Linked DNA regions of Homo sapiens. The protein of the gene in region 2 purifies or fractionates together with the protein of the main gene of each other region. This does not show direct contact. Each region holds a gene or a part of one and is shown on either strand. Other genes may lie near its edges. The genes, in order: PRSS2 and SLC35A2.

What was found.
Region 1: the proteins of SLC35A2 (region 2) and PRSS2 purify together in Homo sapiens (affinity purification with mass spectrometry; 2 studies listed by BioGRID and IntAct, with this or other methods). This does not show direct contact.

The regions. Positions count from the first base shown.
Region 1 is NC_000007.14:142,768,800-142,772,710, reverse strand, and holds the start of PRSS2 (trypsin-2 isoform 2 preproprotein), read right to left. Parts: upstream 1,742-3,911; 5' UTR 1,729-1,741; coding exon 1,689-1,728; intron 663-1,688; coding exon 503-662; intron 150-502; coding exon of another isoform or gene 108-149; intron 1-107. UniProt on the Homo sapiens protein: In the ileum, may be involved in defensin processing, including DEFA5.
Region 2 is NC_000023.11:48,909,629-48,913,539, forward strand, and holds the start of SLC35A2 (UDP-galactose translocator), read right to left. Parts: upstream 2,019-3,911; 5' UTR 2,009-2,018; coding exon 1,918-2,008; coding exon of another isoform or gene 1,879-1,917; intron 690-1,878; coding exon of another isoform or gene 606-689; intron 369-605; coding exon 186-368; intron 1-185. UniProt on the Homo sapiens protein: Transports uridine diphosphate galactose (UDP-galactose) from the cytosol into the Golgi apparatus, functioning as an antiporter that exchanges UDP-galactose for UMP.

The DNA.
Region 1 (3,911 bases), on a different chromosome or scaffold from region 2:
GGGAGTTCTGATGCATACTCAGGTTTAAGAGTTCTTGGTGTAGGCAGCAGTTCTCAGCTCTGTCTATACACTCTACAGTTACCAGAGGTAGAGTGTGAAATACTCACTGATATTCACACCCTCTTCCTGATAATTTTGAGTTAATTGCCCTGGGATAGAACACAGGGATCAGTATTTTTAAGTACTCATTCTTAGGTGGCTTTAATGTGTAGCTAACCAGCAAAAGTACTAGCCTGCTCTTCTCACTAGCTCTCACCACCCCAAGATCATCCCTGCCTGCTTTTATGACCACAACCCTTGCTGTTTCATGGATTTGCCTGGGTGTGAGGGCTTCCTGTCTTGTGTTCACTCTCTGCTCTGGAGAGTCAGCTGCTGCCAACAAGTTTTCTTTTCCACCATCTCTCTCGTCCGTCCTACCCAACCTCAGTACTTCCCTGGGCTGAATCCAAGCTCTCCCAGGCAGCCTGGCTGGGAGTTTTGCAGTCAGGGGCCCCACACTTACGACTTGTAGCAGTGACCTGCTGACACCACCCACTGTTCGCTGATGAGGGAGCCACCGCAGAAGTGGTAGCCAGAATTCAAGGACACCTGGTAGGGGACAGAATTCTCCTCACAGATGTAGCCCCCAACGATCTTGTCATCATCATCAAAGGGGGCAGCAACTGGAGTGGAGATGGGAAGGGAGAAGGCAAGTCAGTAGCATGTTAGGGGTGGCGCTCCCAGCCTGTGGCTGCTTCCTGCTAATTAGAAAACCTTAACAAGCTCAGTGAGGCTAGGCAAGGGGGGGAGCGCTGCCAGCCCTGGTGATCATCACTGGATGTGGCTCCCAAGTCTCTGTGTCTGCAGGGCACGTAGCTAGGTACCCTGTGGGGGTTCAGATCTCTCCTGGGGTCACCAGGCTGAGGACGCAAGGAATATCCTCACAATACTTCCAGTGGGATAGGATTTGGGATGTGGCTGTCTCAAGCACTGAAGTCTTCTCTCTTTTATTCACCACCTGTGTACTCCACCTGGTTATTTAAGCCCCGGATTGTCTGGCTACTTTGGCCAAGCTAGGAAAACCCCCTGGCGACATCGACTTGGCCATGACCAGTTTCCCCCTCAGCTCAAATCTGCCCAGTGAGGGCAGAGTTGAGGGAAGCCCCAGGCTCACTTTTGCAGAACAAAGGTATACGTTATTATTGGTCAAAACAACAGCAATTCTTAACCTTGGCTGCATGCCTAGAAATGTTAAAAATCACCTGGGAAGCTTAAAAGCCCAGAACACAGGCTGCACACCAGACAATTGAAGTGAGAATTTCTAGAGTTGAGTGTCTTGCATGAGTAATTTCAACCTCCCCAGGTGCATTCGAGGTTAAGAGCAGCTATAGTGGTGCTATTGTGGTGCTGTCAGAGCCAAGCCTGAAGCCTACTGCTTCATTTCATGGGCCAGCCCCACCTGGTCTCCCTTCCCAGCTTCTCCAACCACAGCTCGGATATGGATGAATAACAGCGGTGGGAGTGAAATCAAGGAGAAGGTGGAACAAGTGAGGCTTAAAAAGAGCCCAAGGAGGATGGGAAGAAGAAATGCCAGATGGAGGAAATAGAATATCACAGCACAGTCAAAAGAGGAGAGGTGGCAAGAATGGCAGGGCATGTGTCTGCCAGGGAAGGGTTGGTTGAGGCCTGAGGCAGGGCGTGAAACTCACCAGCAGCTGCAACAAAGGTAAGGATCAGAAGTAGATTCATGGTGGTAGAGTGTGCCTGATTGCTGGTGGAGAACCCGTCTTTATACCTCCCGAGGATGGGGAGAGGAGGTGTCTGTGAGGTGAGGGTCACTGCTCCTCCCAGCACAAACACACCTGCAGCTTTCCCCTTCCTATGGTCTTGCATCAGTATGTTTGGCCACTCTGTGGGTTTGTGATTCACAGGTGATAAGGAAACTTGCCTTCTGAGAGCAGAGAGGGAGACCGGCTGTTTCCTGGAAGGATGCTGATATGGGAAAGACAGGGGAAGCCAAGCCCCAGATCACACAGCTGGGCTTTCTTAGGCCGAGGAGATGAGGGTTAGAAGGAGGGAGAATGGCCTGGCTGTTTAGGAATATATTTTACTATTGGGGTTATATTTAATGTACTTAAGGAAGGGCAAGTGTTGGTAGCAAGCTTGGCTTTTTAGTGTCCTGGAGCTCCCAGGAGAGGGGCAAAGTCTTATCTAACTAAGGCTTGTTCCTGTGAATATGAAGATGCTTCTCTCCAGTCACTCAGTGGGAAAGTCAAATCCAAGGCTTTGGGGAATGAGAATTCCAACATTAAGGGGTAAGGAGAAGAGAGACTCAGCATTCCATAGGATGCTGGGCTTGAAGATGGCTCTCCCTCCTACCACGGCATAGGGATGAGAAGAAGGAGGGGGCACAGGTTAGGTAGGAGCTTACTCAGTGCATCTGGAGGATGGAAAACCAATGGCGCACTCCTCCCCTTCTTCAATGTGAAGACATTTGTCTCTCATGTGCATCCTGTCATAGGTTCTTTTTATGCAGCCTCATGGTTGCCCTTGCAACCTGCACTCAGGGTGATTGAAACTGACCCACCTGCTTGGGGCTGACAGCCTGAACCAGAATGACATGCCCCTGATCACATGTCAGAGTTTGGACCATGGTAAATCTGGGTTATGATTTGATCTGAGAATCAGCAGTAGGTAGGGATTTGAGCACATGGTAAATGGGTGACATATTGGGTTCAATAACAAAGATGTGGAGGGGTGGGTCTAGAATTTTCTATTTTAGATGTAGTGAGATTATACTTGGCTCAGTACTAAGTGAATCTTTCTAGAGAATATCCTGATTTGAGCCCTACCAAGGGTACTAAGATACAGTCGTGTAATTGACTGAGGCATAACCTGGCCAGAGCAGTGTGGAGATGGAGATGCTGTCTGCGCTCAGGTCTAATAATGTAAGGAAAGGAGGGGCTTCCTTATGAGGGTGCTTTCCCTTCTCATCAACTCTGAGCTAATGTTGGTGATGGGCAGGAGTGAGCAGAGTTCAAGTTTGAATTCTTTGAAAGGTAAAAGAAGCAGGGATGTTCTGGAGACAGTGAGCAAAATGAGAAAAGCTCAGAAACTTGCTGGAGAAATCGGACATGGCCAGGGGGCTAGAGGGAGGAAGCAAATGGAAACCAGAGGTAACTGGAAAAAAATACCAAAATAGGGTCCATGGTGTTGAGAGGACACACAGAGTACCTTCAGGTTCAGCTCCTGGCATGGCCACTGAGGCAGCTTCCCCACAGCCAGGAGACCCACTGCTCTGAGGCCCCCTCTCTCCCCGGTACCCTCTCTAATCACTAATAGGCTGATACCTAACGCTGCTATGCTTAGATGGTGCATGGTGCCTGACTGCTTCACGGGAGTTTTCACGTAAGCAACAGTGGTACATTGCTCTTTGTTTATGCTGAGTTTCGCAGTTTAACTTCCCACCAACGTGCTAATGGTGACTTGTGTGGAGCAAAATTATTTCCATTTATAGAGGAAGAGACTGAGATTCAGAAGGATTCTGTCTTGCCCAAGAATACAGATCTTGGCAGAGCTGACCATAAGGCCAACAGAAGCCATGGAGAGCATTGTGAAGTGTGGGAATTGCTGCACGTGGCATCTAAAAGGAGATTTATTGAGGATCAAGGCAGAGGTCCCCAGAGGACAAACTGTACATCTGATTCCTTCCTGGTGCTTTTCTTCCTGGCAGAAATAGATGATTGAATTCATCTTTCTCCTGGCACCTTTTCTCAGAGCCTTACCTTGCCACAGTTCCAGACCCATCCAGGCCATGACTGCCATGTAGATGACACACCTCTCTGCTCATGAATAACTGGCCAAGCCTGAGGTAGCTAGGTTTTAGAGCATTGATAATATGGGGTTTTGCTGTGTTGTCGCTGAACATGTTA
Region 2 (3,911 bases):
ACAGGCCGGCTACCCGGCTGTTAGGGCTAGAAAAGTGTAAGATGCCGCTACGCATAGCTGGAGTGGCGCTCCAGGCAGGTTGAGATTTGGAGACACTCCTGAAGCAAACCATCTGTGTGAACACACACACATACATGTGGAGTCTCACCCACCGACCCCAGTGCAGCCCCATCCCTGGTTCGTACCCCTCTTCTGTGCGAAGAGCAGCAGCAGGCAGGTGAGACCTTTGAGCACTTCCGCCATGACCACAGCAGTGGTGGCAAAGAAGCGGTCCCCTGGCAACGTGCGGGCGTAGCGGATGCTGAGGATGAGGGAGGCATTCTGGACCACCAGCACAGCTAGGGATATGTACTTCAGGCGCCTGTGAGCTGTGGGGAACGGAAGGGGCAAGGGGGAAGGACGGGGTCAGAAGCCGCTGGGGCATAGCCACACCACCACCCACCCCCTTTCTTTCTCACCCAGGACCCTCCTAGCCATGGCTACTTGCTCCCTCAGCCTGCCTGCCCTCACCCAATAAGGGTCTGACTCCTACCGGCTTACTGCCTCAGCCATGAGCAGGAAGAGCCAGAAGGGAGAAATGGGCCCCACCCTGTCCCAGTCCATACCTGGAATCCTTACTGAGGTGTCAGGTAATGGCTGAGGCAAACCCTGGCCACGCGCCTCGGCTTCCTCCCAAGTGAGAAGCAACTCTTCCCCAGAAAGAATACCGACAACTACATTCTCCACGTTTATTGAGTGTTTACTGTATGCCTATCACTGGGTTAAGGGATTTCTATGGATTACCTCAATAGACTCATATCACTGTCATCTCCAAAAGAACTGCGAGGATTCCCATTTATGGATTAGCAAACTGAGAATTTATATGAAATGATGCTCCTGTTTAATGAGGGACTGTCTCATGTAAAGAATAACACATCAATGCAGGGAATGAGGCCACTGTATGAGGTATGTTCACCCCCTAAGAACGGTCTTTCTCCTATCTAAGAAATGATTCGATTCCCTCACACTGAGAATGGCCTACATCCCATATGGAATGATCCTCCTCATACCCAGAATGGTCTCTCCAACCCCTCACTCCTGTGACAACTGGTTCCTCTCGAACCAGAATAGTCTACTAAATACAAGAAATGATTCCCACATGCTCCCAGGGACTGAATCCTGTATCAGGAATGGTTATCCCACCAAGAAAGGTCTGGCTCCCTCAACCAGATGAGGAAATACTTCCCTGCACTCCACATGGTCTGCCCTCCCACCACCGCACACGGACCCTCTAGCTAATGAATTTTTCCTTGCTCTACCCACACTCACAATGAGCTCTCTCTGCTATAAGGAAGGACCCGGCACTCTCAGAACGTTCTTTCTCCACCATATAACGATGAGCCCTCCCACCCGAATGTACAATGAACTCTACCTCCATTAGGAGGGAGCCCCCAGAACGGTCTCCTCCGCACATAATGAAAGACACCCCCATCCTCAAAATGGACCCTCTCTAGTCACATAAAGAAGGACTCGCCCCACCCTAACTCACAATAGTCTCTGTCCCTTTATAAGGAAGGAACCACCACCCTCAGAATAGTCTCCCCCTTCTTCAGTGAGGAACTCCCACACCCGCAGAATGGTCTCTTCCACACGGAAGGACTCCACATATTCAGAATGGTTTCGGTGGCCTTAGCCTTCCCAAAAAGAATTACCCACCACACTCACAATGGTCTCTACTCTCCATATGCGGAAGGATCCCACAATCACTCTCAGAATGTTCTCTTCCCCGCCCCCAACACACTGACAATGTGCACACACACACACACACACACGTCGGTCCACACGGGATGCTCCCTCTCACTTTAGTGAGGAACATTCCCGACTCCCAGCGATCCCGACCTCCGCCTCCCATGCGACTGCTCGGGCAGACTGTCTCACCCGCACTGGCGGTCCCCGGCTCCAATGCACCCGCGGAAACCGCCCCTGGCCCGGGCGCCGCGGTGGAACCACCAGCCCCAACCGCTGCCATGTTGGCATCTGCCCGGCCCGTCCCCTCGGCAACAGAAAAACCACTTCCGCGTTCGTCACTTCCGCTGCCGGGCCACCTGAGTGAAGGTGGAGCGAGAGCCGGGATCGTCAGGGTGGTGGCTTTTCTCCTCCGCTCCTAAAAGCTCAATGTATGAATAGCCCCGGGATTTCCAAATTCCGTCGGATCGGGAGGCCGGGGACACGGCCCGATCGGCCTACCCACCATCCCTACAGAGCTTCATCGGCCCATTCCTGTCACTAGACCCGCCTTATCCTGCCGTTCGTCCGCTTCACTGATCGCGCTTTCCAGATCATCCCCCGATCTTGTCTCCTAGACTCATTGGTTCAGCCACCCCTTTCATCTCGGCTCTTTATTGGCAGCTTCTCCATAAGGCGCCGCCCTTTCCGTATCAGAAACTACCAGGTGCTTCATGGTTGGACTGAAATTCCGCTTTCCCGTCTTCCAGAGAGGCCTCGCCCCCTGGAGAGCACACGGGAATCTGGGGACGAAGAAACTTTGACCTGGCGGGGTCGGGGTGAGGGCGTACTGGCATCAGGTGCGAGTCAGGAATGTTAAGCTAGCAGATAAAAGCAGAGCAGGTGAGGATAAACAAGTGAAAATGCAAAGGAAAGTTGACGCACATAAGGGAAGACAAGTGAGTCACCACTGAGGATGGCAAAGGGGACAGGCGAAAGGCTCACAGGTTAGCTAGCATTTGGAAGCAGGGCAAGAGTCCGGGCCAGAGGCGGTGGCTCACGCCTGTAATCCCAGCACTTTGGGAGGCTGAGCCGGGCGATCACCTGAGCTCAGGAGTTCCAGCCTGGGCAAAACGACAAAACCCCGTCTCAAATAAAAAAAAAAAATTACCCGGGCTTAGTGGTATGCACCTGTACCCAGCTACTCTGGAGGCTGAGGCAGGAGAACCGCTGGAACCCGGAAGGCGGAGTTTATACTGAACCGAGACAAATAAGCAGGGCAAGAGAGGGAACAACTCAGGTCGGAACAAGTGAAACCAACATGGAATAGGGTAGGCCAGGTAAGTCAAGTGTTGAAGGAGAAATTAGAGGGATGGGTATGTAAGGGTAAAGATGGGGGAAGAGGCTAAAGATAAAGAGCAAAACAGGTGACTACACCCTGGACAGATTCCAGTCAGCGCCCAACCCCAGCCCCGCCCTGGCCAGTACCCTGACAGGGCTTTTCTTCTGCAACAGGGGAAAGGGCTTCTTCATTCCCCTGGGGTGCCAGGGAAGGTAGTTTTTCTGCTTCTGAGATAGCCATCTTGATTGGGGATGTGCCCTAAACACCTTCAATATGCACAGTATCTCCAACAGAGAACCCTTCTGCACATACTGGGCACTGCATAAGATCAGGGGCAGGGGAATCAAGATTTTTTTGTGTGTGTGTGGTGCAGCTTCAAGAATCCTTAAAGCTCTTTAGGATGGCAACATAAGACTGTGGCTTCCTGAGGACAAAGCAGAGGGACAGTCTGTCTCAGTGCACAGTAGATGCTCCATAAAAGCCTCACACCTACAAATGGCCAGCCGCTTCTGATTCTATTACTTTTATTAAATAGTGGGTTTCCACACATGGCTTTTTAAATAATCCAGGCAGGAGAAGAGAGGAGGGCACACTTGGAACTCCCCTCCCCACAATACGTGATTATTTACATTTTAGTAATTGGACAATCCCGGCTCAGGAGGAGGTTGCAAGAATCTGCAAAAGTTGGAGGGAGCGCCCCAGGAGAACAAACAGCAAGCCTTATTTCCCCTAGCCCATCCCCCAAAAAACCATCCATCCCATCCTAGTGTCTGGTGGTGTCCGGTGGTGTCCATCTTCCATTCCTTCCCAAATTATGGAAGTAAGGTTCTTCTCACCAGAATAAGAGCACTTGGGATAACAGAGT